2 separate regions of the Homo sapiens genome follow, and region 1 is linked to region 2. The links come from fine-mapping of genetic effects on gene expression. Tissue or cell type: aorta. Region 2 holds a variant in brackets; the other region holds the start of a gene. All regions are shown on one strand. Distances are from middle to middle.

Evidence for each region. PIP is the estimated chance that this variant, and not a neighbour inherited with it, causes the effect.
Region 1: it holds the start of ASIC2-AS1, and the variant in region 2 is fine-mapped to the expression of ASIC2-AS1 in aorta (GTEx, PIP 0.95).

Annotation. Positions count from the first base shown.
Region 1 is chr17:33,549,875-33,566,342 of GRCh38, reverse strand. ASIC2-AS1 (ASIC2 antisense RNA 1) reads right to left here and starts at 7,336. Exons shown (of 4, transcript XR_001752838.2): 1 at 7,121-7,336; 2 at 422-843. LOC112268206 (a long non-coding RNA gene) reads right to left here. Exons shown (of 3, transcript XR_002958160.2): 3 at 7,506-7,527. It also overlaps a transcript of ASIC2 not described here.
Region 2 is chr17:33,586,672-33,603,139 of GRCh38, reverse strand. It overlaps a transcript of ASIC2 not described here. Among named protein-coding and RNA genes, the nearest start is that of ASIC2-AS1, 36 kb to the right of the region's middle. The variant T/C (reference allele first, on the strand shown) is at 7,110.

The DNA.
Region 1 (16,468 bases), 37 kb after region 2:
AAGGGGTGGCTCCTTTATAGGAAAAATAAAAGGATCTACCATTCCCAAGGCTGTAATATGGCCACCACAAAGAATCTTAACACTAAAACCAACCAAACAAACAAAATGCAATTATCTCAAGTATTCCAAGTATTTGTCCTGAGCTAGGCAGAACTCCCATCTATTCTGTACTTCAAGTTCCCCTTCATGTATAAGCCCTCCTGACAAAAGGACAGAGGCAGAGTAACAGAGAAAGACGTAAGGGAAGGGAGAGCTGAGTGAGGAGGGCTTAGCGCACCTGCAGGCTGATCCCAGCCAGGAAGGGTGCTCCCAGCTACAAGAGGAGAAGCCACATTCTAACAGGCATATGCAGTAAGAAAACTCCTGAGTTCACATCATGGGAAGTTCAGAATCAGCCCCAGGTGTGACAGTCAACACTCACCATGCTGTCAGGGCTTAGGCTCCAGTCTGCGCTCCACCCAGGAATCAGGAAACCTCAGTGCTGGTTTCACCTTCAAGCTGTTACCTAGATGTCTTCAGCAGTCCTGAGTGCTACACACAGGACAGCGTCCAGAGGAGGAAGAGAAGCTCTCTTCTTATGAGTCTCTTAGAAGAGAGGAGAGGTTTTCCCTAAGTTTCCTAACAGACTCTTTTCCCTCTCTCATTGGCCAGAATTGGTTCACATGGCCCTTCCCATTGTTAGGGGGAATGGGATTATCCTCAGATCAGTCTGAGGGTGGAGTCACCTGAGGTGGGAGGCCTGGATCTCTGAACCAGTTCTGGGTTCTCTTGGTAAGGAAGATGAGGACGTGCATGGGCACTGGTAAGGCAGATGAAGTGTCCACTTTACCTCTAAGGACTGTTCTGGAAAACAACAGAGAGCAAGGCACAAAGAAAATCATGGTACAGGGACTGCAGAGGTGGTGCTGTGTGCACAGATATGGAGGCAGAAGTTCTGCTTTCAAGTCCCAGCCCTGCCACCTACTAACTATTATGTCCTCCCAGAACCTCAACTTGCTCACCTGTAAAATGAGAATTTGAATATCTGCTCTGACTCCTATAACTGTCTGAAAACCCAAAGAAGGCAATGAGGGTAGAAGTTCCCAGCCGACAGAGTTGGATGGCTCATATGGAAAAGCTAGTTATTATTAATGAGAGAGAGAGATCCTGCAGGACAGAGTTGGAGGGAAGGGCAAGCCAGGGACACAGACTAGTGCCGAGACCAACTCAGTCGGGGAGACCCTAACCCAGCAGTGCTAGAGGAATTAAGAAATACAGAGGTGTGAAGTGGGAAATCAGGGGTCTCACAGCCTTCAGAGCTGAGATCCCCGAACAGAGATTTACCCACGTATTTATTAACAGCAAACCAGTCATTAGCATTGTTTCTATAGATGTTAAATTAAATAAAAGTATCACTTATGGGAAACGAAGGGATGGGCGAATTAAAGGAATAGGTTGGGCTAGTTAACTGCAGCAGGAGCATGTCCTTAAGGCACAGATCACCCATGCTATTGTTTGTGGCTTAAGATGCATTTAAGCAGTTTTCCATCCTGGGCAGGCCAGGTGTTCCTTGCCCCCATTCCCATAAACCCACAACCTTCCAGCGTGGGCGTTAGGGCCATTATGAACATGTTACAGTGCTGCAGAGATTCTGTTTATGGCCGGTTTTAGGGCCAGTTTATGGCCAGATTTTGGGGGGCTTGCTCCCAACAGGCTAGGGGTGGCTTGCTGGCACTTCGAGGTGTGCATGGCAGGCAGTGCCATTATGCTGCTCCTCAGGGGCATGGATAGCCTCTGCAACCTTTGGATATTCCTATTTGCAGAAAGACAACAAATAAAAAGGATAATTAACTCAGGAAACCCAAACAGAGTTTTGTACTTTATGTGACTTTCCACTGACCCAGGGACTGTACTGGTGCTGCTGGCAAAGATCCTAATCTCTGGGATTAAGGGCTTGATCCCCTTAAATCAGCACTCCTGGAGGTGGTGGGGAAAGCCAACTTCAACCTGATCCATTGCAAACTGACCGGTGGATTAACGAGTCAGGGCAGGCCTCCTTAACTGAGACTTCTGTTTTTCAATATTGAGGTTTTCTTTAAAAATCTCCACTAATTGGATTGCTGACTTGGAGATAGGGATGCAGGCTTTAAAACGAGAGAGGAAGACAGACAGAGACAAGGCAGTGTGTCTGTGTGTCTCAGAGCAATGCACCTTTATCCGGTTCATCTCAGCCATGCAAGACCGTGCAGGGCATCAGCTCAGCCTCACCTCCTCAGGGGGGCTGCCGCGGTGCTCCTCCCACCACAGGAATATGTGACTTCCTGCAGGGAGCTCCTGGTTCCAGTGTCAGGACTATGGCCCTGATTTCTACTTTAGCCATCTAATCTCGTAAGAAATATTCGAGTACCAGAGTTAGAGATGCATGTCTGTAGTCAAATGCAGACTTGGCTCTCCAGATGGCAATAGTGAAAGGAAGCCCATCCTGCTGGTCAAAGCATCCAAGAAATAAGGCAGGTGGCCAGGAGAAACCTGGCTCTAGCATCCCACCCATCTCCTTTGCTACAGATGGGCTTGGGCAAGTCACTCCCCATGTGGCCTTGGATTCGCCATATTAAAAGCTATGGGGTTCTACTAGATGGTCTCTGAGATCATTTCCAGTCTGGCCCCTCACTGGTTCTTTAACTGGGAGCAGTGGCTACAAGATTGGATCTGGCTGAATGCTTTTTCTCATTCAGCCTGATGCACTCCAGAAGTTTCAGGTGGAATCACCAAGGAGCAGACCTGAGGCCATGCAGCTTAGAAAAATAAGAAGTAGGTAAAGGCCAAGAGTACCTTCAGCATTTAGTGAAAAATGCTCCAGTGGTGGGCTGGGGATGGGGAGCAGGAGGAGGTAGAGCTATACATTTTTACAGATGCCTCAAATGCAAGAATCAGAAGGAGCCAGGGTTGGGAATGAGGAAGCGTGGATTTAATTCCCGGTTTATCCTGTGAGCAGTCACTTCTTTCTAGGCTTCAGTTTCATCCACCATAACACAGGAAAAATAATATCTACATCATTAGGCTGCTGAGCAGATTGGATTAGCAGACATGTAAAGTGTCTGGTACAGGACAAATACTGTGCAAATGTCATTTCCCTTCTTGTCCTGTGCTAACTGAAGTATCACTGTCTTCCCACTTATCAGAAGGTCTGAGCAGAAAGCCTCATCATTTTAAGTAGCAAAACTCTGGAGATTTAAGCTTTAGAGGGAAGCTTCCCCAGTTTGACGGGTGGCTGGCTGTGCCATCATGGTTCCTTTGGCCCAAGAGTTCCCATTCCCTTGAGCAATCTCCCTGCAACAGCTCCTCCTAGAGCCCACTAGCCTAAGCCCATGAATCCTGTGGTTCTCCTGTGGAGCAGCTGCAACTGGCTGTGGTATGCAGGGAAGTTGCCTAAATACTAAGGGAGTGCAGAAAATGAATCAAGAGGGTGACACTCAGGCCCAGTTTATCCTGTGGTCTGAGTGTGGGATCCACATGTCATCAGAGGCAGCCACCCATCCAGCCCCTTGCTTGATACCCCTACCTCCTAGCTAGCTGCTGGGTCCATTCCAAGTAGTTGGTGCCATCTTATCCAGGAGCTGCCTCACATATCAACCCTCTGGAGGCTAAGCCTTAGAGTCCCATTCCTGTAGGAAGCCCCCAAGCCTATCACATGCCAGCTCTGGTCTGAGACGCTCCTTTTTCCCAAGAGATAGGTGCCAAGAGTGACTTCCCTTATCAGGCAAGACTCACTCCGATGCACAAGAGTGTGACGTGCTCTCTCCTGGTGGTGGCCCTCCAGGACAGGTAGCATGTCACGTCCTACACTGATGCAGCAATGACATCCATCGGTCCTAGACAGTGATTCTTCTGCTTTTTTCCAAGCTGGGAATACAAGGCTGATGATTAGGAATGGGAATGGCAATTTGAAAGCACATAAGAAATCTCTGAGGCTCTGTATATTTGTTCAATCATTTAACAAGCATTTCTAAGCACCTAGCGTACACTAGGTCTGTGCTTGGCACCAGAAAGCGACAGAGATAAATCAGATGGAACCAAGAAGCTTCTACTGTATTGGGAAAGATAGCCCCTGCATAAAAACAGCCATTTAGAAAAAAAAAAAATGTGTTACAAGAAAATGTCAAATTTGAAAGTGCAGAGAAAGGTGAAAGGGGCATTTGGCCCGTACAAGTTGAAGAGGGTTTCACAAAGGAAGCGGCCTTTGAGCTGAGTCTTGGAGGATGGTTCTGAATGTCCTGAGAACAACAACTGCCACTGACTGATTCCCTGCAAGAAATCCTTTCATCACTCCGGATTGGAACAGCTATCCTGAGATAAAACCCGAGAAGTCTGGGAAGTGAGGAGGGAACTTCGAAGAGGAGTCTTAGGAATGTGAATACTCAAATCCAAGATCTTAAGATCTCACTAGAGGGATGCTTGTGCACACAGTCCTTGGTAGAAAAACGTCAATCACTGAACTAAGACGTGCATCTATTTTTGAAGTGATCTGCACTTCTGGGAATAGCCCCAAAGGGAAATTGGTCATTGATTGCTAGGAAACCAGCAATTCCCGCTGGGCTTTCTGCTCCTTGCCATATTTGCACATATTTTTTTCCAGGCTCCTGCCTGCTCTTCTTTCAATACACACATCCAAACTCACACCAGCATATGTTCTAGCTCACGCCCCCTATGTCTGTCTGAATAAAAACACCAAAGTGTATAAGAAAATGGATGGTGTTCTACAAATTGCAGCACTCCAAACGATGCAGACAGTGGAAGAAGAGTCCACTAACAAGAGTTTCTGTGTTTTGTTTCTGTTCAGTCTTCTGTTTCTATCACCGAAGCTAATTATTTGCCTTCCTGAAGACCCTTCACAAATGTAAAGTGGGGTTGCCTTGCTACAGGTGGGAATGAATTTTATAAATGTTGCATTGCATAGCAAGAAACTAAGCTTAGAGAGCACCTGCCAGTGCTATCAGTTCTATGTTAGATCAAAGCCTCTCTTTAATTGATTTTTAAAACCCAAGCATGTCAAGCCAAGCACACAGGCATGGATGTTATACCTGTGCCTTCCGGACTCCAGGATAAAGCTGGAATTTGACCTTTGGCCATGACATATATGCATACATATATCCATAAATTCTAGTGTTGGCCTTCATGAGTGGGGAAGTGGAAAGAATTCTTACCAGTAATGAGTGGGCCTAACATTCTCATTTCTGAAATGAGAATCTCCCTTTTCGTCATAACGATGCTCCCTTTTCTCTGTAACACTGCATTCATTACCCTATGGCCCAGGAAACAGAAAGGCTTGACCTCTGAAAATTTAGACTGCCCAGAAGTATGCCACCTACTACTGCATACAAAAAAACAGGATGCACACCAGGGAGGCGATGTGGTATTTTGGAAGGTCTATGGGCTTTGGAATTAGATAAATCTGGGTATGAATTGAAGTTCTGCTGTGTATTAGTTGTGTGACTTCAGTCAGATACTGTAACTTATCTAAGCTTCAGTTTTTCACTTCTAAGATAAGAATAATAGATCCTAACGTATGGAGTTATTATAAAGATAACATGAGCTAACTCATGGAAAGCCCCAAGCAGTCTGCCCTCACCCAGAGGATACCCAATAAATGTGAATTTCTGTCTCCTGCTAACCTCCATGGTCACATTCGTTGCTTCTTTCACCTTGGGAGTATTTTCTAGGGCACAGTTTTGAAACTATATTTTGGAGAACTTTTGACCTCATTTGAGTTCTTTCCAGAGTCTCAAACCACAGACCCACACCTCGCTTTCCTCTGAACATTTAAAAAAATCTTCCTTCGAAAAGGTCCTAGATACATTGCTGCCCAAATCCTGCTTTTCCCTTCCCTGAGTATCATAAATGCCAATTTTCCTTATCTAAAATTTCCTGTCAGATTTATTTAATCAACTCATAAGTCCTTTGGGGCCTCCCTTGGTTCCAAAGTAGCAGTTGCCTTAGTCATTTCCTCTACTGTCTGGGAAAGAACTTGGTCTCCAAGGTGATTTCACTTTCTCTGATCAGGGAGGACGTCAACATCACACAAGTGGTATGCTTGCTATCGATCTGTTTTCTCTTCCTTTAGGGTTTCTGTGAAAAACTGGTTGAGGTGTTATTTTTAGCAAATTGATGATTGCCTCTGCCTGCGCACATGTCCATCTGTCTGTCTGTGAACACAGCCAACCGAGGTCCAAGAAAGCTTTCCTTGCCTTGCCTCGACAGCTGTATTCATCTTAAGAGCTTCATGCTGAGCAAATGGTTTAAGGCCTTTGGTGATTGAAAAAAAATGGCAGTACAGTAACATGGGCTTCAATTGTCACATTTTCTGCACATGAGGCCTTTGAGTAATTTGTAGTCAGCATCCTGAGTTGGAATTTCACCAAATAGTTCACTATTCTCCATACTATTTTATGCTACCCTGCCTTTGCTTATGTTGTTCTGTCAGCCAAAAATGTTATTTCTTGTTCATTCACTTACTCAAAAATAGTTATATCATAGACATAGCTATCATAAGGCAGGTACTACACTGTGTGTTGGGAATTTACTGATGGGCAAAAACCCATACTGTCCCTTACATGTCATCTTCAAAGCAATAAGGGGTCATTGAATAATCTTAAAGAGGGCACTGGATATGATCAGATGGAAATATCACTCTGGCTGCAGAGTAGAAAATACATTGAAAAGAGCAGGTATGAATGTGGGGATCTCTGCTTTTGACAATAATGGAGACACTGGCACTATGCTAGCCCTCTGCCATAAGTGACTACAAAACTAGGCAGAATATATAAGGAAACTGCTTTCTGGCAATGGCAATGGCAAGACCACGACCTTTGAAAAAAAAGAAAATTATGAAGTGAGATCTCATTTTTTTCAGTTCTTCATTTAGGGACAATATTCTAGCTGTGATGTAGAGGGGCAGAGCCCATATAGAGCATGACATTCCCACTGACCAGAAGCAGGAATCAGATTTTGAGACTACTGAAGTGACTGGAATCTGTGGGGTAGGCCATGATAAAGTGGGGAGCTGTGAGGAAGGGGGCCCCAGATATCTTTGTGGTAGGAGTCATGGACAGCACAGACACAGGGAGAAGGCATAAAAGCTTACCAGGAAGGGCTGTTATGAGGTTGAGAGTGGAGCAAAAATACTAGAAGTCAAGTAGTGCTAGAAGATACTGGAGTTCTTGCTCAGTCAGAGTGTAGAGGCCTTGTTAACACCTGGAGATCCAGTTAAGACATCAGAAAGCCATGCCTTAAGAATAAGGACCATGTCAGCCAGGCATGGTGGCTCATGCCTGTAATTGGGAGCCCATGGCAAGTGGACCACTTGAGGTCAGGAGTTTGAGACCAGCCTGACCAACATGGTGAAACCCCATCTCTACTAAAAATCCAAAACTTAATCGGGCGTGGTGGTGCATAACCTGTAGTTCCAGCTACTTGGAAGGCTGAGGCAGGAGTATTGCTTGAATTTGGGAGGCAGAGGTTGCATTAGGCTGAGATTGAGCCAGACTCCGTCTAAAAAAAAAACAACAACAGTAAGGATCATGTCCTCAGGCAGGGTCAACAAATTATGGCTCTTGGTTCAGCTACCAATGTTTATAAGCAAAGTTTTGTTAGAACACATCCTGCCCATTCATTTACATTCAGGTTACAGTAGTAGAGCTGATTATTTGCTACAGAGGCCATATGGTTCACAAGCCTAAAATGTTTACTATCTGGCCCTCAAGAGAAAGTTTGCTGATCTTGGTCCTTGAGTAAGGACTACACTAGATGTATTCTAATAAAGTCTAAAAACAATCCTCAACCAGATTCACTGGGAATTTTTGAAATTTTAGTACTATGAAGTTAGAGGAGATTAGAGAACACCACAGAATTCCTCCTCCACCAACAAAGCATAAAACCAAATCTCTAAAAGTTCAAGGTCATCAGCCAGAAACTGAACAATTTGCTGGAACAAAACTGAACACTCTTCAGAGGAAGATAACATAACCCAGAATATTTATGCCATATCATCCATAATGTCCAGGATACAACAAAAATTACTAAACATGAATAAAAATAGAAAACTCTGATCCATAGTGTAGGGTCCAGCCCCACAGGGTCGGACTGGTAGTGGCCCCCCGGGCCCAGCTGTCTTTTCTTTTATCTCTTTGTCTTGTGTCTTTATTTCTACACTCTCTCGTCTCCACACACGGGGAGAAACCCACCAACCCTGTGGGGCTGGACCCTACACATACGCAAGAAAAAAATCTTTAATAGAAATAGATACCAAGAAGGCCCAAATGTTGGGTTTAGTAAAGACTTTAAAATATATATTATAAATGTAAATTTTCTACTAGAAAAAATATGGTCCAAATGAGTAACAGATTAGTCTTTGCAGAGAAAAGGAAGCTCAAAGAAAGAGTGAAAATGGGAAGACCAGTTGGAAGGTTACTGCCAAGATTCAAGTGAGAGATAATGATGATAGATTATGCTAGGATGGTAGCTATGCCTCTGGAGATAAGTAGATGTTTTCAAAAGATTTTTAGGAGGGATATTTAGTATAATATAGTGATGAGTTGGATATGGAGAATAATAGAGTGGGATGTGTAAATAAAATGCTTAACTTTTTGTCTTGAAAAATGAGATCATTGGTGTTATCATATAGTCAGACGGCAAACCCTGCAGAAATATGTCTTGGACAAGCTGAGTTTCATTTTTAGTTTTTAATCTCAAGAATTCTAAGGCTCATCTTCTTTCTCAACTCTAACACTCCTCCTTCCACCAATGCAGAATGGTTCCTCTTTAGTATTCCCATAATGCTCTGTTGAGATGCTTGCAATTATCCTATTATTCTCTTTTATAACATCTACTTACACGCCTAGACCATGAGCTTCCTAAAGTCAGGGACCATGCCATGTTCATCTTTGTAGTCTTGACTGTTAACATTGCACTTAGCACATAGTAGGTATTTAGTTGATGTTGAATGAATGAATGAATACAATTATTTCAATGATTTTCTTCTCTGAGGATAGTGACTAGGAAACAATTTCTGAGATTAAGGGCAGGGACTTTAGAGTAATATAGACCTGAGACTACACTTGGTTTTTCACTTACTTGCTAGGGACTAGATAAGTTACTTAACATTTGTAAAATGGAGACCAAAAAGGAAAAAGGCCACCTTATACTGAATAAGGTGGGAATATTTACCACATTATAGGAAGTAAGGTAGAAATATTCTTGGAAAGTGGTCAGCATAGTGCTTGCTCCACTTAAGATGCTCCACAAATACTAGCTAATGTGATGATGATAACAAAGAGACAGATGCTGCAAAAGCAGCTGTCCAAGAAGGGCTCTTGCATAGAACAGGAAGAGCTAATTGCAAGAAAGTCTTCCACCATTCCTCCCTCACCTGTGCTTACACTTAAGGCACCTCTCACAGACCAAGACATGTTCTACTGCTAGCAGAATTTGCTAAGATATGCTTATGGGAATAACTTAGGGGAATATGGGAAATGGAAATATGCTGAGAGGATCAATGGCTTCTTTTTATGTAGGTAACTAAAGGGCAGATGGAAAGAAAAATCATCATAGTCATCACTGGCTAGCTTACCTGTAAACACTAATACATATACCTCCAAATTCCACAAAGTTCTTCCCTCAAAGATGACTGTGACTTTCTAGCTCCAGAGGCCTCACTCATTACCAAACTTGGGTGTCTGATGCAGCCACAAACCTTTAGATTAGCAGAATCTATTTCATTATGCTTCACAAAAGTTTAAAATTTTGCTGAAGCACCTAGAAGAGAGCTGTGCTTAATTTTCTGAATTTAAACGTATTTAAGCTCTAAGTAAATAATTGTCATCCAGTGGCTCCTTGGCATTACAAGGTCATAGAGACAGGAAAGAAATCAACTGTAACATCATCCCAGCTCTCAGATTTTCCCACGTGCTGTCATTCTCAAGCCAAGGTGAGTGGAGAGGCAGCTATGCCACATCTTGTCAGGGCTCTTAAACTCCAAGGCATCTCTGCTTTATGCCTTAGGCCCCTCTAGGAACTCCAGTTACTCAGTTCATTGTGTAACTTGCTCTTTAAGATTGTCTCTTCTCCCCATGTCTCCTCTCCCCTTGGCAGAAGTCCAAGGTGGGTTGATAGCCTTAGGGTGGTAACACCATGATGCACCCACAGACCCTTAATCTCTGGCTCTGACCTTTACTCTCAGCCATTACACTTGTCTACCTCATGATGAAGCTGCTGGGAAACCAGTGTCCACATTGCTGTGGGATCACATTGCAGGAATGGGCGGCTGTCATCTTTAAGATATTCAAATAAGTATCTTTTCCAAGAGGCATCTTGGGCTATGATCAACAGATCCTTCCTGGTAGCCTTCGTTATATACCTGGATTCTAAGGTCCTGGAAAACAGAATGCTTTTATCTGAGCTGAATCTCATCTTGCTCTGGAGAGTGCTAGAAGTTCAATTTGGTAGAACTCAGCTAGAGTCCCTGTATCCCTTGAAAATGTACTTAAACCGGCTCAAACCCCGAAATCAAGGCCTGTGGGAGTCCAGAGTTCTTTCCATGATTGCTTTGAATTCCTGACTGCTGACATCCTCCTGGATTTCCTTATCTCGGTTCCTGATCTTCACACCTGAGGTCCAATTTCTACTCCATGGTAACCTGAGCATAAGCTCCATCCTTTCATAGGTTTATGACAGTGTCATTTGGACCAAGAATTTCATGAGTTGGGTTAACTCATGAGCTCAAAGTTTGGGCTGTCACATCCTGCACCTCTCAGCTTTTCACCATCTCTCTCTCCTCATCACCTCTTATTTTTCCACTTTTCATTTCCTGTCTTTCTAGAGTAGCAAGCAAATTTTTACCTTGCCTCTCAAAGAACAGTTATCTTCATACACATGTTGCTGGGGGGTCTCACTTTGCACCCCCAAGAATGTGTTATATTCCAAACAAATAGTATCATTCTTAAAAGATATTTTGGTGTCAGCTGTTAATAGGACATGTATTGTCCTTATTTCACAAGAATTTGGACTACTCCGTCTACACTGGAAAACAAGTACCTTCTAAATCCATTCATTTAATCAGCAGCGGACCAAAAGCATAAGTGGGACCTAGCTAGGAGGGCACTACAGGCATAACTCAGGGAATAGTAGGTTAGGTAGCCACGGACCATTCTGTTACCCGCGTGCCCATAACTTTCTGAGACATCTGACCATTGTGAAACCCGGAAGAGACATGGAGAGGATGAGCATTTGAGACATAGACATTGGAGCCAGACAGATCTGGATTTGATCTTCAAATCCACTTTTTACTGATCACCTAGAAATGGAGATAATGATGGGTATCTTGCAGAGTCATTGAGAGTACTGGGATAAAAATTTATTTAAAACCCTCAGCCTCACCTTGATATGTGAGAGGCTCCTTCCCTTTTATTTATGGTCTAGTGTGGCTGGGAGTTCATTTCAGATGTGTTTCAGTCTTAAAAGTCTCACTGAGAGTCACTTCTCAGTAAGGAAAGATATGAAATATCACTCAGCCTTACTTCCCCCAGCTCAGTCCCCGGCCAGCCTCAGGCATAGATCCTCCCTGGTGGTGAGGACTGTATGTACCCTCTGGTGGTGCTTCTTTTGAAGCCAGGTTGGCCATTCCTTCCTTTCAGACCCACCTCCCTTGCCTGTCAACTTCTTCCTCAAAAAGCACAGAAGACAGAAGAACCACTTGAAAATGATCCTAGCCACAGACACTAGCAGGGCTTGGTACATAGGTTGATGGTCTTTGAACTGGCAACCCCAGGCCCTTTTGGATCCTTGCATGTGCTCTTCCCACATCTTGAAATACCCCTTCCCCTAAGCCTATCTTATTGACATAGTAGAGATTCATTTATTTTACAATAGCCCTTCTATGGTCACTCCCTTCAATTGATCCCCATCCACCACACGTGCACACGTGCAAACACACACACACACACACACACACATATAAGCAGTGATGCTAAAATAGTCTAACTCCATTACTATCTCTCTCCCTTCCCCCACTTAAACTTCAAACCCACTCAGGACAGAGACTCTGTGTCATATTTGTGTAGACTCAAACTGAATTCAACACAATCAAATAACACTGTCTCCAACTAAAGCCACCTTCCAAACAGAACAATTTCACTCATAGGAAACCATCCAAGGCAGTTAAAAACATCACCGACCAATTTGCAAAGTGTTTCCCCAGGCATTAGAGAATTGGGTCTTCATGGCTGCCCTGTGTAATTCTCCCCTAAGTTTACTGCCTAACAGCACTGCCACCCAATTTATTGATCCTAAGCATTTCTGCTGTTTCTGGATGCTTGAATTGCACCTAGGAAGAGAACTCAACTGCAGGGGAAAAAACGAAGGACTCAGATTCAACGTCTACCTGCCTCATGCAGAACAATCAAAGTTCTTTGCTGGGTCCTTCTGCTTTACAAAGTGCTTCATACAGTCATTTAAGCCTCATTAGTATGTGTGAGACATTAGAATAAGTTATTTTATCTGTCTTAGCCTAAGCTTCTCCATCACCAAAATAGGTATAATAATAATAATAATATCTACTACCACATAATTGAATGTTGTGAGAATGAATTGGGTTAAAGATGGAAAGCACATAGTACCATGCCTGGCACATGGAAAGAACTCAATAAAGGTTATCTGGTATTAAAGAAGCTTTCTCAGCTGGGCACAGTGGCTCACGCCTGCAGTCTCAGCTACTTGGGGAGGCTGAGGTGGGAGGATTGCTCAAGCCCAGGAGTTCAAGGCCAGCCCAGGCAACATAGAGAGACCTCCATCTCAAAATAATAATAATAATAATAATAGTAATAATAAAGGATCTGCCTCCCAAACAATCTCCTTTATCAGAGCTGAAGAGGTGATGAGACATAAAGCTGTTTATTCTACCTCTCTTTGCAAGTCTTACCCCTTTAAGTTGTGACACCTGTTGTCTTGGGGTCTCTGGAAGCTCTGAGGCAAGAAACATTCAATTGGTTATTATGAATATGACTCATTATTCTAAAGCCCAAAATAAACCACATATTCAGTTACCACCTGTTCACATGTCAGCTTAGTGCTATCTCAACCCACCCTCTTAGCAACACCTTCACTGGCCCCAGAGAAGACCCCTACCCTTCAGATTATATGCAGTGCCTCCACTGCATTGATTTGGTGTTTCCTTAAAGGACTCCAATTCCACTAGGGCCTCTGCCACTCCAGGGTAGGGGAGGATTGCCAGAACTCTAGGAGTCCCTTTCTCTTGACCAGTCCTAAGCCCCAAAGAACAAGTGACTCAAATGTCCCTGCTGCTCAGAGCCCCTCTTCTACAGACATTGTCCAGTGGGCCCAGGGTTCAGTTGGGAGGGAGAAGAGACCCACTGCAAATGCATTTCCCCTCCCAGCTCCAGGGCGGTGCAAGAGAGCCCAGCAGCACTTCCCTGGGGAAACATTTCCACCATTAACAGCCATGCCCATTGCACTAACAGAATACCTGACGCGAGTGTTCCACTGACCATCTGGCTTCCAGCTTTGTCTGGAACTCAGTACGTAACTTTTGACAAATCACTGCCCTAAAATTGTTACCTCAAAAAATGCACAAATCCCACTGGTTGATCTTTGGCTGAGAAATATTCAAAGTATCTATGATGAACAAGAAGAGATGTTGAGAGTCTAAATGTACCAGGACTTTACATATTGTCTCACCCTCACTCATGGCAGCCTTTCAGGCAGATATTGTCTTTCCTTTTGCAAAGTAGGAAACTGCAGTCATGTCAGAAAGTGCAAGAGCTGGAACTGGAACCCACGTCTGCTGGACACCAAGTCCCTGTTGTTACTTTTCCATCATGCTACATGCTACCTCCCATTTCATGGTTTCAGGAGAGAAAAATCAGTGCAAAAAGCATGAGTTGGCAAAGGTCTTTTGTGTTACTGAGGGAAGATTGTATTGATTCTATCAGTTTGACCACCCTCCATGCCTCCAGCAGCCATCCAACCATCTCTAAGCTCTCTAGGGAGCTGGCCCAGCCCCACTCAGCCTGGCAGGAGGCAAATCTTCCTGACGCTCTGTAATAAAAGGCTTTGGAAATTGGGTTATAAGGAAAACCATCTCTCATTTTCTCTAGTAAGAGAAAAGTTATTCAACAGAGGCCCTTTCCCTTTCAGGGCCCCTTCAAATTCGTTAACTCTCTGCAAACACTGCTTATAAAACAGCACTTGAAGCGAGGCAGCAGAGGCTACCGGGAAGCGGTGGGCAATGAGATTTTAATGTGTTCCATGCTGTGAGCCCATCCCGACTGTCTGAAGAGCCTGGTTCTCAGGCCCCCAATTATTCAGTTTCTCAATCTTCCCCCATCACAGACAACACATCTCATTTCTCACACCCAGCCTCAGGCTCCTTTGTGACAACCTTCATTTTCTGGTCACAGCTTGGTGGCAGCTGGTTTGGGGAGGGATGTGGAAGGGAGGAGAACAATGGCTGAGGTTAGAGAGGTGAGTGGCATCGCACCTGCAGAGTCAGAAGAGCCATGCTGCCAAGTTCCCTTGTGAGGACAATATCTGGCTTTTACATCGAAGGGATCCTGATGGCTATGGCATCTCAGAACAACAGTCTAAAAATCCCTCCTACTGAGTTTTGAAGGAAGCACAGTGAAGTTTTTGGAGAGAGCTGGGGGTCCTAGGGGAAGGATGTCTATAATCTAATTATTCACAAGGAGAAGAGCATTTTCTAGGATGGAAGACCAAGCTATGGGCATCTGATTGGGAGTAGACCAGAATCCTAGAGAAGATATTCTTAGTGGCCATTGATTGGTCATTGGTACAGCCATTGACTTCAAGTTTGACTTGACGAAGGTAGCAGTTTTTTGTCTTTGGTGTCTCTTCCTGTGAAGGTGTCACTTCTCCACAGCCCCACAGGTGCTGCCTTGGCCCATGCCCTCATCATTCCTCCCCTGGACTAGAATGAGTCCTAACAGCGTCCTGACCTCTGGCTGCAACCTCATCTAGCCCTCCTCCCCACAGCCACCACCACCAGAATCTTTCCGGAATGCAAACCTAATTGCACAACACTCTCCTGCTCAAAAATATTCCCTAGATAACATTTTCATAATGCTAGATCAGCATACATATTCATCGAAAAAGCACCGAAAAGACATCCGACCAAATGTTAACAGCAATTATTTTGTGTAGTAGGTTTGCATATGATTGTTTTTTCTTTACACTTTCTTGGTATTCAAGTTTTCTGCAGTGAGCTTAAGATAAATATTATTTATTTTCTAGGCATAAAAATATCATCCAGAAAAAATAAAAGAAATCCTGCACAGAACAAAGTCCAAATTTCTTAGCTTTGCATTAAGCCCACCCAGAGCTTCAACATATCTTTTCACGTTCTTGTTCCACTACAATTCACAGGTCAGTCACACAAAAGCTGTTTCCTACCTAAAATGTAGTCTCCTCTCCACCATCACTACTATCACTTTCCCTATGCTTATACTCCTGTCCTTGCCATAGCTTCTTTTGCTTATAAAACTCCTAGTCATGCACAGAGGGCCACTGCAAATGTACCTTCTCTAGAAACCATAATCTCTTTACTCAGCAGTTATTGTTTTCTCCACTCTGGGCTCATCATACCTCTTGCTAATATTCTCTCCATTAGATTACAAGGGATGCAATTATCCCTTCTCTAAATGAGGAAACCAAAGCCCAGTAGTAGCCAGTAGGTGATATAGACAGGACCAAACCTAGAGTGTCTGGCTCTTCAGCCTCTGCTGTTTAACTACTACACAATAGAGCTTTAAAGCAGTTGCTACTGTCCCAGAATGTAAACAAGAGCTATCCCAGTATGTGAATTAACCATGAGGGTCCTGTGACATCACTGCAGCTGTTTACTGTGATTTGTCCCGCCCTGTTAACATCACACATGTGAGCCCTTTCTTCCCATGATATCGCCTGCCAGTCATTGTCGCCCAGCAGAGCCCACCAGCACTCACATAGCAGACCGCAGCAGTTACTGTGATTGCAAACTTGCAAAGGAGATATTGCCTTAAAAGTTGACTTTAGAACAACACTGCTTGAGATCGTTCCGGTATTTGCACTCCTCCATAAACTATTTCTACAATATATTCACAGAGTAGACAAAGCAATGCTTTATTACTATCTGGACCTCTGGCCCCAAATGACTGTGCAGAACTCCACTGAGCTGGACTGGACCTCATGGAGGGCCTGATTTATCTCAGCTCTCACCTACAACTCTGAAATTTGAATTTCCACTGTGCTCGGATAAGGAGTTGCTCTGAGATGAAAAACCAGAAACACAGAGCCAAAGAAAGCATCTGGCAAAATGCTGGAGGTGAAGCTGGTCCAGGCCTCTGGCTCAAGGCTGTCTCAGCGTCCCTAGGTTTAGCCGCCCCATGAGAAGGCAATAGTTCACAAAGGGCAGGGAGGTGATAAA
Region 2 (16,468 bases):
ACAGTGACTTCATCACTCTTGCCTGGAGGGCTGAGAAAAGCATGGCACACAGAGGAAGATGGGGCTTCTGGAGGTGGTGGGGAAATGCAGAGCTAGGAAGACTGGCATGGGATTTTGAAAATGTTCACACTCTGTGCCCTCCAGCTCCCTCTCTGCATAAGAGATATTGGGAAAGGGCTCAGGCCTTCCTCTTAGAGCCCCTGCGAGGATTCTAGAGTGGGCTCTGGAGGATAAAACACTGAGGAAAAAGGTACAAGGTAGAAAGAATGATGAGAGAAAGAGTTGAACTTCATTCCACAGCTATTTCTTGAACCCATGTTAAGCCCCATTGCTAGAGCTATAGCAATAAGTCAAGTGGATCCCACACCCAGGTATAAGGACCAGTCCATGCAAAGGTCCTGAGACAGGAGAGGCTTGTGTGGCTGGAGCCAGTGAGCAAGGACAGGGGAAGGGCATAGGAAGAAGTGAGACCAGAGAGGTCTTTTGTGGGTGATGCAGCTCATTGAGGGCCTTGTCCTATGAATGGGTGGGGGCATCTATTTATTTTGTGCTGCTATAACAGTACCACAGACTGGGTAATTTATGATGAACAGAAACTTTATTGGCTGATGGTTCCAGAAGCTGGAAAGTCCAAGATTGAGGGGCTGCATCTGGTGAGGGCCTTCTTGCTGTGTCATAACATGGTGGAAGGCATCACATGGATGAGAGAGAGAGAGCGAAGGGGGCCAAACTCATTCTTGTATCAGGAGCCTACTCCTGGGATAATGACATTAATTTATTCACAAGGGCAAGAGCCATCATGAACTAAGCACCTCTTAAAAGTCCCATCTCTCAACACCGTTGCATTAAGGATTAAGTTTCCAGCACAGGAACTTTGGGGGACACATTCAAACCACAGCATTTGGCTTCTGGCTCCAAAAATTCATGTTCTTTTCATATGGAAAATACCTTCATTCTATCCCAATAGTCCCAAAGGTCCTAACTTATTCCAGCATCAACTCGAAAGTCCAAACTCCAAAGTCTTATCTAAATCAGACATAAGGGAGACCCAAGGATTTGTCCTGAGATAAATTATTTTCTGTGAATTTGAAGAGAAGCTTTGAGACAAGCTGTGAGCCTGTGAAATTAACAAGTTATACACTTACAAAGTACAATGATGGGACAGGCACAGGATAGATATGTCCATTACAAAAGGGAGAAATAGAGAAGAAGAAAGGGGTAACTGGTCTCTAGTAGGTCCAAAAACCAGCAGGGAAAACACGAAGTCTTAAAGCTGGAGAATAATCTGCTTTGACTCCATGTCCTGCATCCCGGGCACACAAGGGTGGAGGTTGGGCCCCTAACGCCTCAGGCAGCCCCATTGCTATGGCTGTGCTAGGCTCAATCCACTCATTCTCTCACAGGTTGGAGTCTTGTCTTGCAGCTTTCCCAGGCTGGAGTTGCATGCTGGGTACCCCATGCCCATGACTCCACTAGGAATTGCCCTAGTGGGAACTTTCTGCAGTGACTTAACTCCAGGATAAGTTCTCTTCCTGGGCTCCCAAGCTCTCCAATACATTATTTGAAATCTAAGTAGAGGCCACGATACCTCCACAGCTTTGCTTTCTGCACACCTGCAGAAATAGCACCCTGTAAACACCACCAAGGTGTACCTCTGAAGCAGGAGTACGAGCTGCACTTGGGCCTGCCTGAGCCACAGCTGGGGCAACCAAAGAGTACTGTGCCAAAATGTGGGGAGCAGAGTCCCAAAGGTGGTGCAGGGCAGTGAATGCTGAGGTCCTCTGGGCACTTCTTTGGAAACCCTTCTCTCAAGGCCCTAGATGGAAAGGACATCCTGGAAGACCTCTGAAATGCCTTCAGGGTCTTTCTCCTATTCTTTTGGTAAATAGCCCCTGCCTCCCTTCTATTCTATTAGTCTCTTTAGCAAATGGTCACTTGTATACACCCTAGTTTGCTTTCCTAAACATACTCTTTCATTCTTTATGTGGCCAAGCTGGACATTTACAAAATTTGTATTTTCTGCTTTCCTTTTAATTATAAATCCCATCTTTAAAATATTTCTCTCTTCTCTCATTTTACTGTAAGTGGCCAAAAGAAGCCATACAGCACCTTGAATGCTTTGCTGCTTAGATATTTCTTCTACCAGATATCCTAGTTCATCACTCCTAAGTTCTGCCTTCCACAAAGTCCATTGTCCTCAGTGTCATCAAGTTATTTGCAACTATATAAAAGGGATGGCCTTTATTCCAGTTTCCAATGTCTTCTTCCTCATTTCTGTCTGAGACCTCTTCAGAATGGCCTTTACCACCCATATTTCTACCAACATTCTGATTATGACTACTCAAGTAGTTGCTAAGATTTTGGCTTTCCCTATGACTTTTTTCTTCTTATGAGCCCTCACCAGAATTGCCCTTAATTATGCCTAGTGTTCCATTATTGGAACACTAAGCATGTGGTAGTTATTTATATCCTAGCACTCAAGGTCATCACCAAGGTCTGATTGCAAAAATTAAAAAAAATTGCCACCTCAGGCATAAATGGGTTAATGCTTCATTTATTGCAATATAGGCTTTTTATAGCCTGACCTGCCAAATTCTGCCAACCTCTACCCATTACCTAGTCCCAAAGCCATTTCCACATTTTCAGATATTTGTTATAGCAATAGCCACACTTCTTAATACCAATTTTCTGTGTTAGTTTTGCACTGCTATAACAGAATGCCACAGACCAGGTAATTTATAATAAACAGAAATTTCTCTGGCTCATGGTTCTAGAAGCTAGGAAGTCCAATGTCAAAGGGTTGCATCTGGTGAGGACCTTCTCGCTATGTCATAACATGCAGAAGGCATCACAAGGACAAAAGAGAGAGGAAAGGAGGCCAAACCCATCCTTTTATCAGGAGCCCATTCCTGCAATAATTACGTTTCCAACACATCAACTTTGGGGGACACATTCAAATAATAGTAGGGCCTTTGGGGTTTCCCTCTGAAGAGAGGCAGGAACTGACTTACCCATGAAAAGGATTCCTGTGGCTGCTGTGCAGAGACAAGATGACAGGCAGTAAGGGTGGATGCAGAGAGATGCACGAGACCAGAGAGAGATGATGGGGCTTGGACAAGATGGCAGCAGTGAAGATGGCGAGAACTGTTAAGTTTCTGAACATATTTCAAATGAACAGCTCACAAGGAGAGAAAAAGAAGAATCAAGGGTTACAGGAAGGATTTGAACTTGAGCAACTGGAGAAAGAAACTGGAGAAAAAGGAGAGTAGTGGGAAGTCTGAGCCATCCTTTCTAGAAGGGTGGTAGAGCTCACCAACCCTCCCCAGAGGAGCAAGGATGCAATCAGAGGCCACTACCTTCTTCATCCCAAGCACAGGGAAGGCCTGTTCCTTGGGCTTCAGGTCTCCTCAGCACAGAACAGCCCTCTTCTCTTCCACTGCTCTGTTTGTGATGCTGGGAAGAGTATCCTGGGTTTGGAGCCACACTGGCCTGTGTTCAGTCCCTCACTTTACACATCCTATTATGCAGCCTCAGCCAAATGTCTTTCACTCTCCTAGTCTGTTTTCCTACCCATGTGCTACTCCACATCTGCCAGCTGTCATCTACATACACAAACACTCAGCCCCGGTAGTTCTGAGCCCCAGACCTGGTGGCCTTGAGGACCTCAGCACCCCAGGTGACCTCCCGTTATTCTGGAGAATGTTCAAGATAAGGCAGCCTCCTACATGTCCTGAGACAGGGCCATCCCTTCTTGTCCACCACAACCTCCTCATCCACATACCTCATCAGGCTCCTTTTCTCCCTTCCCAGCTGGCTGTGGCCTCCCCAACCTTCAGGGTTGTGTGTTGAGGGCAAGAGGTATCTTTTGTTCCCCAGACCACAAAATAGGCCTGTTCTTAGCAAGCACAGCTTCCTCTAGTTGTGCACCTAATCCCATGCACACCAAGGTTTCACTCACATTTTCAAAAAAATATTTCTTATGTGTCTCAAAGCATGATCTTACTGACCCTCTTCACAACCCTGTGAAGTAAACAGTGCAGATATCAAGGCTCCATTTTACAGAGAAGGATGCTTGTCCTGGGCTTGTCCACCCTGTGGAGAAGATGGGCATATGTGTGCATACAGGCGCAGCCCTTTGTTGATTGCGTAAGGTGCATGCACACTCACACAGTCCAAATGGTGCTATCTGTTTCCAGCAAGACACATTCCTGCATACCCTATAGGCAGTCTCAGACTCCCTGACAAAGTAGTTGAGGGAGGTTAGACTAGGTAATTTCCAAAACTGTTGAAATGAAGTCCTCCAAGTTCTGAAATCTCATTCTTTCTTGTCCCCCTTCTTTGATTGTGGGGCACATCCTTCCTTGTCCTGGAGGCACCAATGTCTTACAGCCCAGCACTGGTATTCACTGAACACTGAAATTTCAGGATCTGTAATAGGCTCTATACATGCAAGAAAAGATGCAAAGTCCATGACCCAGCTGGGAAGGAAAAGAGGAACCAGATGACTGACATCAAGTGGGGAATTGTCTGTCCATTTGCTTCTTCTCCTTGAGTAAAATTTTCTTTTTAAATCCTCTTTTGATACCAGCCCTGACATTTTCACATACAGTCTTCACCCAGGAAACACATCCTGAAGAAACACCACCCTTCAATTTCATGCACACTCACTGGGAACCTATTGGGTCTAATTACTGACATGCAGAAAGAAGCTCAAGCTCCATTCTTGACCCAAAGAATATGGAATAACCTGCAAACACTCTGTGTCAGAAACCAGCCCTGCTGGTGGAGGCCTCCTTGGACAAGGCTGTGGAAATATCCAGTGCCATCAGTCAGGGTCACAGAGCTCAGAAGGTTAGAGCAATTAGCCAATAAGAGAAGGCAGCCACATATTCAACCATGAGTTAAAAGCGAGATGAACCCCCTAATCAATGTGCAATCTGGAGAAAATCCCAAATGGTGTGCCACAGAATTTGAAATTTCATGAATAGTCATTTCTCTTTCTTGGAGGTATGTGAAGGTGTCTATTGAAATGAAATGCTCTCTGGGTGGAGTGGCACAGTTGGTCATTGTGGTTTCTTCTTTTTTAACCTGTCAGCATGGATTCATTAATTATTAAAGCAACATCACAAGATTGTGAGGTAATGGGACATAAAATAGATACATTCGGAGAAAGAAAAGGTTGTGGATAAGGAGTATTTGGAAGACATTCTGCACGTATTGAATTTTGGGAAAGAAAAGGAAAGAGGGAGAAATTAAGGTAAGAAAAATAGATGTTACAAACAGCATCCAAAACAAAAGGACAGAATACAAGGGGATGAGCCGGGAGACAGAGTTCTAAAACTATCCCTCCTGACACCTGCTGTGTGGCCCTGTGGGATCATCATTTCTGTCTGGAGCTTCGTGTTCTCACCCACAAACTCAGGGGTTGGGAAACGTGACTCTAAAGTCTCTTCCATCGCTGATTCCATCACGTATTAAGGTCAACTTTACCGCTAGGATTATTGTAATTACAGCAACAAAGGAGTTTTTATATAGAATTATCATCTATTTTATATAGAACTTTCTGTTTTGTAAACTCATTTAAACTCCTTATCCCACCTGATTCTTGAAAAAAAAAGCTAAGTCATATATATAGAAGTGAGAGGCCCATTTTGCAGAGCAGGGACATGTCATCTATACAGGGAAGCAGGATTGTCAGTTCTACATGTCCTATGCACTCAGAATATTGTTAGATCCAAGCACTTGCTGTTAAATGTATGTGCTAACATGCCTTTGAGGCCCTAAGAGAAAGAGACTTGGAGTCTACAGTAGGTGAAAAAAACTCTCCGCCACCTGTGGAGGCATTTCTTCCAGCCAGCCATCATGTCTCCTTCCCTGCAGGGCCCTGTGGGCATCCTCAAAGACTCATGAGATGTCCATGGGGACTCTGCTGACAACAAAGAAACATGTCTGCAGTGGTTTTCTGGGAACAGTCAACAGGTGTCCGCTGGGTTGATGGGAATGAAGCTCTGAGACAACGGAAGATTCTGGCTTCTCTGCCAGCCTGCCAGCCTGCCAGCCTGTCATGAAGCCTTTGGCTGTGTTGATCTGATCCGTTAGCCAGCAGTGAGATCAGAATTCTCTCATCTGACAAATGTTTGTAGAGCACCAGCTGTGACCAAGGCTGAAGCCAGAAATCCTGGGTCTTTTTGAGAGCTCATCCATGAGCTGTTTGACTTTGTGCAAGTTGCTAAACCTCTCTGGAGTACTCTTTTCTCATCTGTCAAACGGAGTCTATGTACCCGCTCTGGCCCTGCCCAGGACTCTTGTACAATTCAAATGAGACTGTGTCTATGAAAAGGCTTTCAAGAGCATAAGCCACTCTGTTAGCATAAAAGATGGCTGGTGGCAATGAATTTGATATTGACATGGAGGAGGAAGAAGAGAGGAGAAGAGGATGAAGGAAAAGGAAGGAGGAGGGAGAGAAAAAAGGAGGGAGAATAGGGATCTTTGAAATCTTGTCTCCTGGGGGTTGGGAGGGTCCTATCTACCTGACAAAGATACTGCAGGTTCTTTGTGTTAGACACACCAAGGCCGGGGGCGCTGATACTTTGGTGAATGCAAACTGGGAAGGTAGAAAAAGTGCAGGGAGTGAGGCACAAAAACACAGAGAGCAAATAACTTTATTCTTGCTCCTACCCTCTTACCTTTTCTCCCCCGTTATATCAAAATTGGTTTGTTTTCTCTGTGCAGTTTTGGAATGTAAAAATAATTTGTGCATTTAAATTAATCCCACCTTTAATTCTCTACCATCATTTTCCTGGGAGTTTAAATACGAATAACTGTTTGGTAACTGAATATGGACCTGCACTCTACAAACAAAATAAAGCATGTCACAAAGTCATTTCATGCCTACATGTTGATAATTAGAGGAAGGAGAAGAGAGAGAGGAAGAGAACCACCCCCAAACTCAATCACTGATGGTAGAAGAGCCTCATGGTTGGCTAGAGCAGTGAAAAGCTCAGAGCTCCAAGATTTGGCGGGTGGGTCTAAATTTAGAACTGATTTGTAGACAAATTGGAGGGAGTTCCGAGAAAAGCCACCAAAACAATTAGAGGAATGCAGCTTAA[T/C]TGGCCCAGCTTGGCTAAGCAACTGCTAAGCAAGGAGCATTATAGAGTCTGTAGCCAGAGGAAACAGCATAGACTCTACTGAGGGGGAGGAACTATTTAGCTTGCAACAGAAGAGGCTCCAGAAAATAAGTAGAGCCCAGAGAAGGCAAGACACAGCTGAGGCCTGGGCCCAGCCTCTCATGGGAAGGCCCATTGGGTTTCTCTGGCCAAGAAGTTAAACCCCTTTGTGGGTCATTCCACCCCAAGTATTCCTGAAAACGATGCATCATTATTTAATTTAATTTTCACAACCCCCCTGCAAGGCAGATGTGTTTATTCCATTTTTACAGATGAAGAAACAGAAGCTCAGGGATGCTGAGTAACTTACCCAATATCTCTTGGTCATAAAATAAAGATTTAAACTCAGATCTGATTAGTTTTAAAGCCTATGCTCATCTCTGTGACACAATAGAACTTCCTGGGAGATGTGACAAGAAATGAAGAAACAGAAATAAAAGCCCCTATAGCTGAGGCTCCCAATGCTTCTTACGCAGTTAAAGGCTACATAAGTGGGAAGGCAAAAGAAGCCCAACTCTCTAAGGTGTACTCTGTCACACTGTAGTGCCTTAGAACAACCGGGCTCCCAGCCTTAGCCCTCTTGTCTCCTGAGATCTTGTTGCTCTTCCCAAACTAGCTGACTTCTTTCCACTTACTCCAGACCTAATAACCCTCTGACGTCCCAGCTGTGGCATAGCTGGAAGAAAACGGACTTCAGGTCAGACAGACCTGGTTTTCAATTCTACCTTTTTTAATTTTTCATTTTTTTGAGACAAAGTCTTGCTCTTTTGCCCAGGCTGGAGGGCAATGGTGCCATCATGGCTCTCTGCAATTTCAACTTACAGGGCTCTAGCAAGCTTCCTGCCTCAGCCTCCCATGTAGGTGGAACCACAGGTACTTGCCGCCAAGCCCAGCTAATTTTTTTGTTTGAATTTTTAGTAGAGATAACGTCTCGCTATGTTTCCCAGGCTGGTCTGAACTCCCAGGCTCAAGTGATCATCCCACCTGGGCCTCCCAAAGTGCTAGAATTACAGGCATGAGCCACTGCACCTCGCCATCAATTTTACTTTTTCAAAAAAAAATTGTGTGACCTTACCCAAGTTACTCAATTTCTCTAGGCCTGAGCTTACTCACCGCTTAAACAGAGCTCTTTTTTTTTTTTTTTTTGAAATGGAGTCTCCCTCTGTCGCCCAGGCTGAAGTGCAGTGGTGCGATCTAGGCTCACTGCAAGCTCCACCTCCCGGGTTCACGTCATTCTCCTGCCTCGGCCTCCCGAGTAGCTGGGACTACAGGCGCCCGCCAGCACGCCTGGCTAATTTTTTGTATTTTTAGTAGAGATGGGGTTTCACCGTGTTAGCCAGGATGGTCTCGATCTTCTGATCTCGTGATCCGCCTGCCTCAGCCTCCCACAGTGCTGGGATTACAGGTGTGAGCCACTGTGCCCAGCCTAAACAGAGCTACTTAAGTCTACCTTCCAAAATTGTTGGAGGAGCAAATGAGATAGTGAGCATAAATGTGCTTTGTAAATTGCAAAGTACTGAATGCAAGAGGATGTTATTGGTGATGGTATTGTAAGTTGCATTCTAAGTCACTGTAGACAATGTTGACCTTCACTGGGTTTCTCTCACTTCAGACTTGCACCTGATCCAGCCATCCCCAGAGCCGTACCTGCTCTGGTATGAGATGGGGGTTGGCCTAAAATCAGAGCAAACCAGAGACAGCTCTGAAAGCAGGCAGCTGGTGAACACCAAAGTTAAGACTGAGTCAGCCATCTGATAGATGGCCTACGTCAGAATAGGGCAGAATGCCAGCACTGGGACACATAGTGGAGGGCCAATGGCAGCCTGGAATCCAGAGACACATGAAACAGACAATGCAAATGGTGTAGGAAACGCGAGCTAAGATCTAGCAAGATGACTTGCATCTGAGACACAGCAGGATCTTCCTGATGGGACAGTGTCCAAAGATGGGACATTGGGACTTGGCTGGAATAGGGATGAAAATTTGAATAGAAAATAATAGTACTAGGTGCTGTCTGGCCCTTACAGAGGTCTTTAAAACTCCCTGAATATTGATTTATTAGCAGGCCTAGGGAATGGGGTTTTCTAAGGCTGTGCAGATACTGAGAATAATCTTCAGTCTTTGGAGAAATGAAGAACCATAGCAAGTGTAGCAGTCAGGGAGGTGCACAGACTAGGAATCAAGAATCTGAGGCTTGTTCTTTCTCACTGTATTGACCTTTTCAAAATTACTTATTACCCTTCAGTTCTCTCTTCTATGTGCAAATTACACAAAAGTCAACACTTATTCAGATGAAGTGCCTACTGTGTGGCTGGCTTTCGTCTAAGCACTTCACATGACTGACTCTTGTCCTCCTCAGAGTAACCCTACGGGAAGCTGCCATCATTATCACCATTTCACCAAGGCCCAGAGAGAAAACCTGACCAAGAGGCAAAGCTGAGATTGCAACCTGAGCTTTCTAGCTCAGAAACCCACCCTTAGCCACTGCATGCTGCAACCTTTTAAATAGATCCTGAAAGAGATGATTTCTGAGGCTCTTTACAAAAGCACAAAACATCAGTGATGGGCGAGCCCTTGAAGATAACCTAGCCACAATGTGCTTTTTTTTTTACCAATGAGGGGACCCAGAGAGACAATCAAGTGCCCAGCAGTGAACAGGCATCTCGCTCTAAAAATCTGTCACTGCATGATTCAAAACCACTGGAAAGAGGAAAATTCATTTATCAGCCAGATGTTCCATGGACATCACAGCTGTGCCTGCACATACAATTGCTGCATCTGCAGTGGATGTTTTGATATTATCAAAAACCTTTCTCCGTCCTCATCTCAGGTCCTTTGTATATCCTGGCCACAAAACCTAAGCAGTGATTCTTGACTTTTGTGGTTTGCAGATGCTTTTGGGGATCTTGTGAAATGTGTGAACTACTTTGCAGGTAAAAATAGACATACACTTCAATTTGGGGAAAGGGGATTATGAACTCTCTGAAACTCTCCCGTGAATCTCTAGGGGTCTGTAAGCTGCAAATTATAAAACTTCTGCTACAGATAATGAGAACACCAGAGCACAGCAGAATGGAAAGAAGAGATGGATTCTGAAGAGTCTCTCAGGAGATGGAAGGCCAAGCAATAGGGTCAAAGACCTTCTACTCCCTGAGTTGAACAGAAGACAGAGGAGAGGGCAGTGGAAGGTCTTTGATTCTGCTACTTGACCTTCTGTCTCCTGAGAGATGCTTCAGAAGCTGCTCTGTTCTTTCCATTCTACCCTCCTCCTTCACTTTGGTCCGGGGTAGAGATTTCCTGCTCGCAGTCCAGTCCTATCTACACCCATCCTTAAGCTTACTCACCACGTACACAGAGCTAATTAAGTCTACCTTCCAAGATTGTTGGAGAAGCAAATGAGATAGCAAGCATAAAAGTGCTTTGTAAATCGCAAAGTGCTGAATGCAAGTGGATGTTATCAGTGATGGTATTGTAAGTTGTATTCTAACTCACTATAGACAATGCTGACCCCCTCTAAGCTTCCCTCACTTCAGGCTTGTGCCTGACCCAGCCATCTCCAAAGTTACATATGCCCCGGTATGAGATAGAGGCTGGCCTAAAATCAGAGCAAACCAGAGAAGGCTCCGGCAGCTAGTGAACACCAAGGTTAAGACTAAGTTAACCATCGGACAGATGATCTTTGTCAGAATAGGGCAGAATGCCAGCACTGGGACACAGAGCAGGGGGTCAATGGTGACCTGAAATCCAGAGATACATGGAACAGATAATGCAAGTGGTATAGGAAAAGCAAGCTAAGATAGAATGGAAGTTCCATGAGGAGGGGCCCTCCTTGGTCTTGTGTGCTGGTGTGTCCTCAGTGCGCACCACAGTACCTGGCACGAGTCCAGAGCCCAGAAGACACTTGTGGGATGATGGTTTGTTTACTGTACAGGAGCCAGAGAATGGGAAACTTTGCACATTATCAATTTATTCTTGTCCTTGATTTTTCCTTCTTAGGTATAGGAGCAGAGGCAGGGCAGGTATGGCAGATGACCTAGGTTAGCTCAGGTTTCTCTAGGAACAGACCCTGAGATGAGGATTCTTGTGTGAGTGATCTGTTGAAGGTGCAAGCAAACTAAAACAAAAGCTGTAAGGATGTGAGGGAAGGGGGACCGAGCAAGGAGAGGGGCTCAGCAAAGCTACAGTCATTCTCAGCTTGATCCCAGGAATATCAATATGTACAAATAGCATCACAGAGTGGCCCCACTTTGAGACAAGGGCATCAGGCTTTTGTGCCCCTATATCAGTCAAGACATAAGATCTGAGACATTTCCTGGTGAGGTGGCTCCTATCAGGGCCAGCAGAGAACAATTCTCAGGAGACAGGTGCAATGGTGGGTTGTGAGACCCACTACCCCTAGCAGCTGGGGGGATGGCCCAGAAAGGATATTGGAGTGAGACACCAGCTGTCTGCTACATACTCTAAGTGCCAACTCAGATCGATTGATGGCGGCTGCCGACAGCTTTGCACTGAGAAAAGGTCAGAAGCCAAGCCTTGGCTCAGCTGAAAAGCACCAAGATGGATTAACCATGTCTGCTGGGGGCAGAGAAATGCAGCCCCAGTGGCATCTATTTGCCATTCTGAGCCTAAGGGGAAACTGGACCCCTACTAACTATCAGAGGTCTAGAGTGGTCCAGGGACTCTGGGGCAATTTTATGTGTCACACAATTCCGAATCTTATCATATACCATGTCAGACAGTTTCCTGTGTTTTGATTGACTATAGGTAGAAACCAGACAGGCAGCCAGTAACTGAAAGACAGCTTTCCCAAATGAAAGCAAAGGAGTTACTTAAAAGTAGACAGCCTTTTAGCAGAGGATGGCAGTCACCCTCAGAGCCCAGAACAGCAGAATATAACAGAAAACAGGAACAGAGGTGTTAGGAAATAGACATCAAGCATTTGAGCACGTTGGAATGAAGCCAATGACCAGACTGAAGGCTAAGACCCCATGTCTTGGGCTTCTCTACCCCCACAGACCCTAGCAATGTGCCAAACACACACAGCTGTTCCTGAGTACCTATGGTTTAGATGTTTGAAATCAAGTAAACCAAGCTTTGGAAACCAACTCTTGGAGGGAGAAGACTACAGCTCCAGAATTTCTAGAAATTTTCTCCCATGCAGACCTGTGGACACTCTAAGTGAAAACGGCAGCCTGGCTTCCTTTGTATGTCTCAGGATGTGATGAGTGAATCTCTGTTTTCATCAGTTATCATTATAGACTTTGGTGTCAGGAGAGATTGGGGTGTGGTGTAGAGATTGGAGTGTGGTGTAGAGATTGAGGTGTTGTGTAGAGATTGGGGTGTAGTGTAGAGACTGGGGTGTGGTGTAGAGACTGGGGTGTGGTATAGAGATTGGGGTGTGGTGTAGAGATTGGGGTGTGGTGTAGAGATTGGGATGTGGTGTAGAGACACAGCCATTGAAGGTGTTCTACCTGAGCTTCATTTCATGAGCCTAGCAGACCTGGTAGTAAATAAGAAACCTGTTCCTCACCATGATGAAGTACCTGTGCAGGGGGCTGGGATGACTCCCCCTTTGCTTCCTCAGGCCAGGAGAGGTCACTGGAGGCTCACAATGGTCCTAACAAAGAGGACAACAATGACAATAGCAACAGCTATGGCCACAAATATCTACTACTGCCTTAAAAGGTATAAAGCACTTTCAATCCATACTGCCCCTTGATCTTCAAAACAACTCAGTGAGGTAGGCAGGGGAATGAAAAGACCCAGGATGTTCCTTGGTGGGGTGGAAGTAGGGAAGGATATAGGAAAGGAGGGCATGTCCCACAGGGTACCATGATCCACCCTCTTTTCCTGAATGAACCCAGAGTCGCACTTCTAGGGAAACCAGGAACTGAGCTGGTGGTTGCAGCCACAGTGGGACACAGCATGCTCTTTGAGGGAGGGACAAGTGAGAGATTATATGATGGGTGGACCACCCCACAGAAATGCATCCTCCCTTGGCATTAATCTACTGTGTGTTTGCTTCCTCTTGCTTGGTCATTCTTAGCCTTCAAAATTCAGTTCAAATAGAATTATCATATGATCTACCAATTCCACTCCTGGGTATGCACCCAAAAGAACTGAAATCAAGCACTGAAGTAGACAGTTGTACAGCTGTGTTCATAGTAGCCAAAGGGTAGAAACAACCCAAGTGTCTATCAACAGTTGAATGGCTAAACAAAATGTGGTGTGTGAATATATATATATGAATATTATTCAGCCTTTGAGAGGAAGGAAATACTGATTCGTAATACAACTTGGATGAATCCTAAGGACATTGTTCTGGGTGAAACAAGCCAGACACAGAAAGATAAATACTGTGTGATTCCATTTATGTGAAGTGTCTAGAGTAGGCAAATTCACAGAGACAGAAAGTAGAATCGAGGTTTCCAGGAGCTGGGGTGATTGGGAAATGGGGAGTGTTTGCTGCACGGGCACAGGGTTTCTGTCTGGGATGATGAGTGGTTTCTAGGGATGGATGGTGGTGATGGTTGTATAGCATTGTGTATGTACTCAATGCCTCTGAATGATACACATAAGAATGGTTAAAACAATAAACTTTGTTATGTTTATTTTACCACAGTAAAATAAATAAATAAGAAATAATTTCAGTTCAGGGGGCTCATGGCCTTCTGAAAGCTTTCCTGGCCCCAGCCTGATAGTGTCAGCATCCTCTGTGTGCCTGGGAACATACTGTACTCGTGCTGTTAATGTTCTCAACTGTCTCCACACTAAGCTCTGAGCTCCTGGAGACTATGGTCTGTGTCCTCTTCTACTTCCCTTCTCTGGCTCTGGCCAAGTGCCTAGCACACTGTGACAATTTGATAATTCTATTTTAAAGCAATGAATCTGATATACGTGGCATGCTTAAAATGTATAGTATATGTTTATTTAAGTAATGAAATAGATATTAACTGTGATCCCAGTGGTGATTGGTTGGATAAACTTGGCTCAGGTTCTTCTTAAATTTATCTGATTCTTCTTTCCATTGTCATTTTGAATGGGCCACACAGCAAGTGAATTGACTGAGAAATGGTGAACCTGATATAGCATAAATGATACACAGTTTACTAACAGTTCTTAACACATGCCAATACCCCTACTGGAGAGATTCTTCTCCCACCACACTTTTTTAGCTTAGTCAACTCAGAATCTTCCTTCAGGCTCAAACATCTCCATATCTGGGGAGCCACACTTGACCCCTTGTATAAGGTAACACCTTCCCTCTCTGCCTTGGACTGAAATGAGCCTGTGATGCGATCTTGTCTCCTCTTTCCTCACACTTGTCTCACGGTGTTATATTACTTGTTTACTCTTTCTGTCTTCCCCATTCGACAGTAAGCTTCAAGAGAGCAGGAGTGCTACCCTCCCAGCATCCAGGAAAACTCCTAGCACATGGAAAGTTCTTAATAAATATGGATCGGAAGAATGGCTCAAGAAATAAGGAGTGAATGAAGGCAGTGATGTGGACATGAAACTGTACAAAGTGTGTGGCCAATCCCTCTTCACCAGCTGAAAGGGCCCTCAAAGATCACTGAATCCAACTCTTTCATCAAACAGATGAGGGAGGTGAGGTCCAGAAAGAGAAAGTGAATTTACCTAAGGTGGATAACAGAGCAACAGACAAACAAGAACTGGAATCTAGGTATCTCATGATTCTGTGCTATTTCCATGATAACATTCTCCCTGCTCCTCTCAAGGTCAAGATTTCTGTTGTCCAAGATGATATGTGATGTCATACCTTTGAGATTAAGCCATAAGCTCACATCATGCATGGTCTTTTGAAAATACCATTCATTTTAACAGAGACATTCTGAACAACAATGCATTAAACTAAAATGTCCCTTGCATAGTGGAGTTTAAAGCATCAGACTTGGCTGGTGGGGAATAGAATTGGGAACATTTTACAGTCCCAACTGGTGTTCCTAAATCTTTATAATGAGGCCAGGCTGTCCTCTTAGGAAAATCTGAATCAAGTGAGACTGTTATGAAGTCAGCTGAGATCTACTTGCCTGAAGTTATGTTACATGGTCAAGGCTGGGAGCGAGTGGGAGGAAAATGGTGAAGAGGGTGAAGGATTAGATAGAAGATCCCCCTGAAAGCTAGAAAAGGAAAAAAGAGTAATAATGTGCCCATCCATTTCTAATTCTATCAAGGGGAGAGAGTAGACAACTTCAGTCCTTAATCACAACCACCTTGAGTTTGAGGAAACTGAGTATGCTTCATTCATACAAGTGGACAGAGGTCTGCCTTCTTCTCTGCTCACTACAAGTGTTATGCCCAACCTCAAGGCATGAATCATGACTGGCCTAAGCTAATCATGGCAGTCAATCACGGCCAATCTAAGCCAATCTAAGCCAATCATGGCAGTCAATCACCTTCTTGTCAATCACTGGGCAAGCGCTGAGCATGTGAAAGCCAGTTTTTGCTCTCACTAAACTCCTTTTTCCTTACAACTCTGATGTGTAAAGACATCATGTGTACAGCTGTGGCAGCCATCTTAGACCTTTGAGGCAAGATATTTCCAGCACAGAGGAGCACAAAATAGCAGGACTGTGAGTTCTGAATGACATCACTGAGCCACTGAACTGACCCTGAGATCTTCTGTTTCTCATTAAGTGAAACGCTAAATACCCATATGGATTAAGCCATTGTTAGGGTTATGGTTTAAGCCAAGGGTCAACAAACATTTTCTGTAAAGGATCAGATAGTAAATATTTCCAGCATTGCAGGCTATATGATCTCTGTTGCAAGTACTCAACTCTGCCATGGTAGCACCAAAAACAGCCACAGACAATACATAATCATGTAACATATGTAAGTGAATAGGCTGTGTTCCAACAGAACATTATTTACACAAACAGGCAACAGGCTGGATTTGGTTCATGAGCCATAGTTTGTGAACTTTTGGTTTAAGTCATTGATACATTAATCTCACAAATATTTATTAAGAACTTCCTACATGCCAGCCACAGTGCTAGATGCTAGGTGTGGCTCAGTTATAGCTGAGATCAAAACAGATCAAGTCTCTGCCCTCTGAAGCTTATATACTGCTCAGAGAGGTGTATAATGAACAAATGAGAAAATAAAGAAGATAATTGCAGATCGTGGTAAATGCTGGATGTAAGTAGCATGATGTGATGGATAATTTTGAGGTCGAGCAGAGTGAAAGGGATGGAGCCAGTTTAGATGGATTGGGAGAGAAGGCAGGTCTAAGATGAGATTTGAGACCTAAAGAATAAGAAAGAACTTACTACATGAAG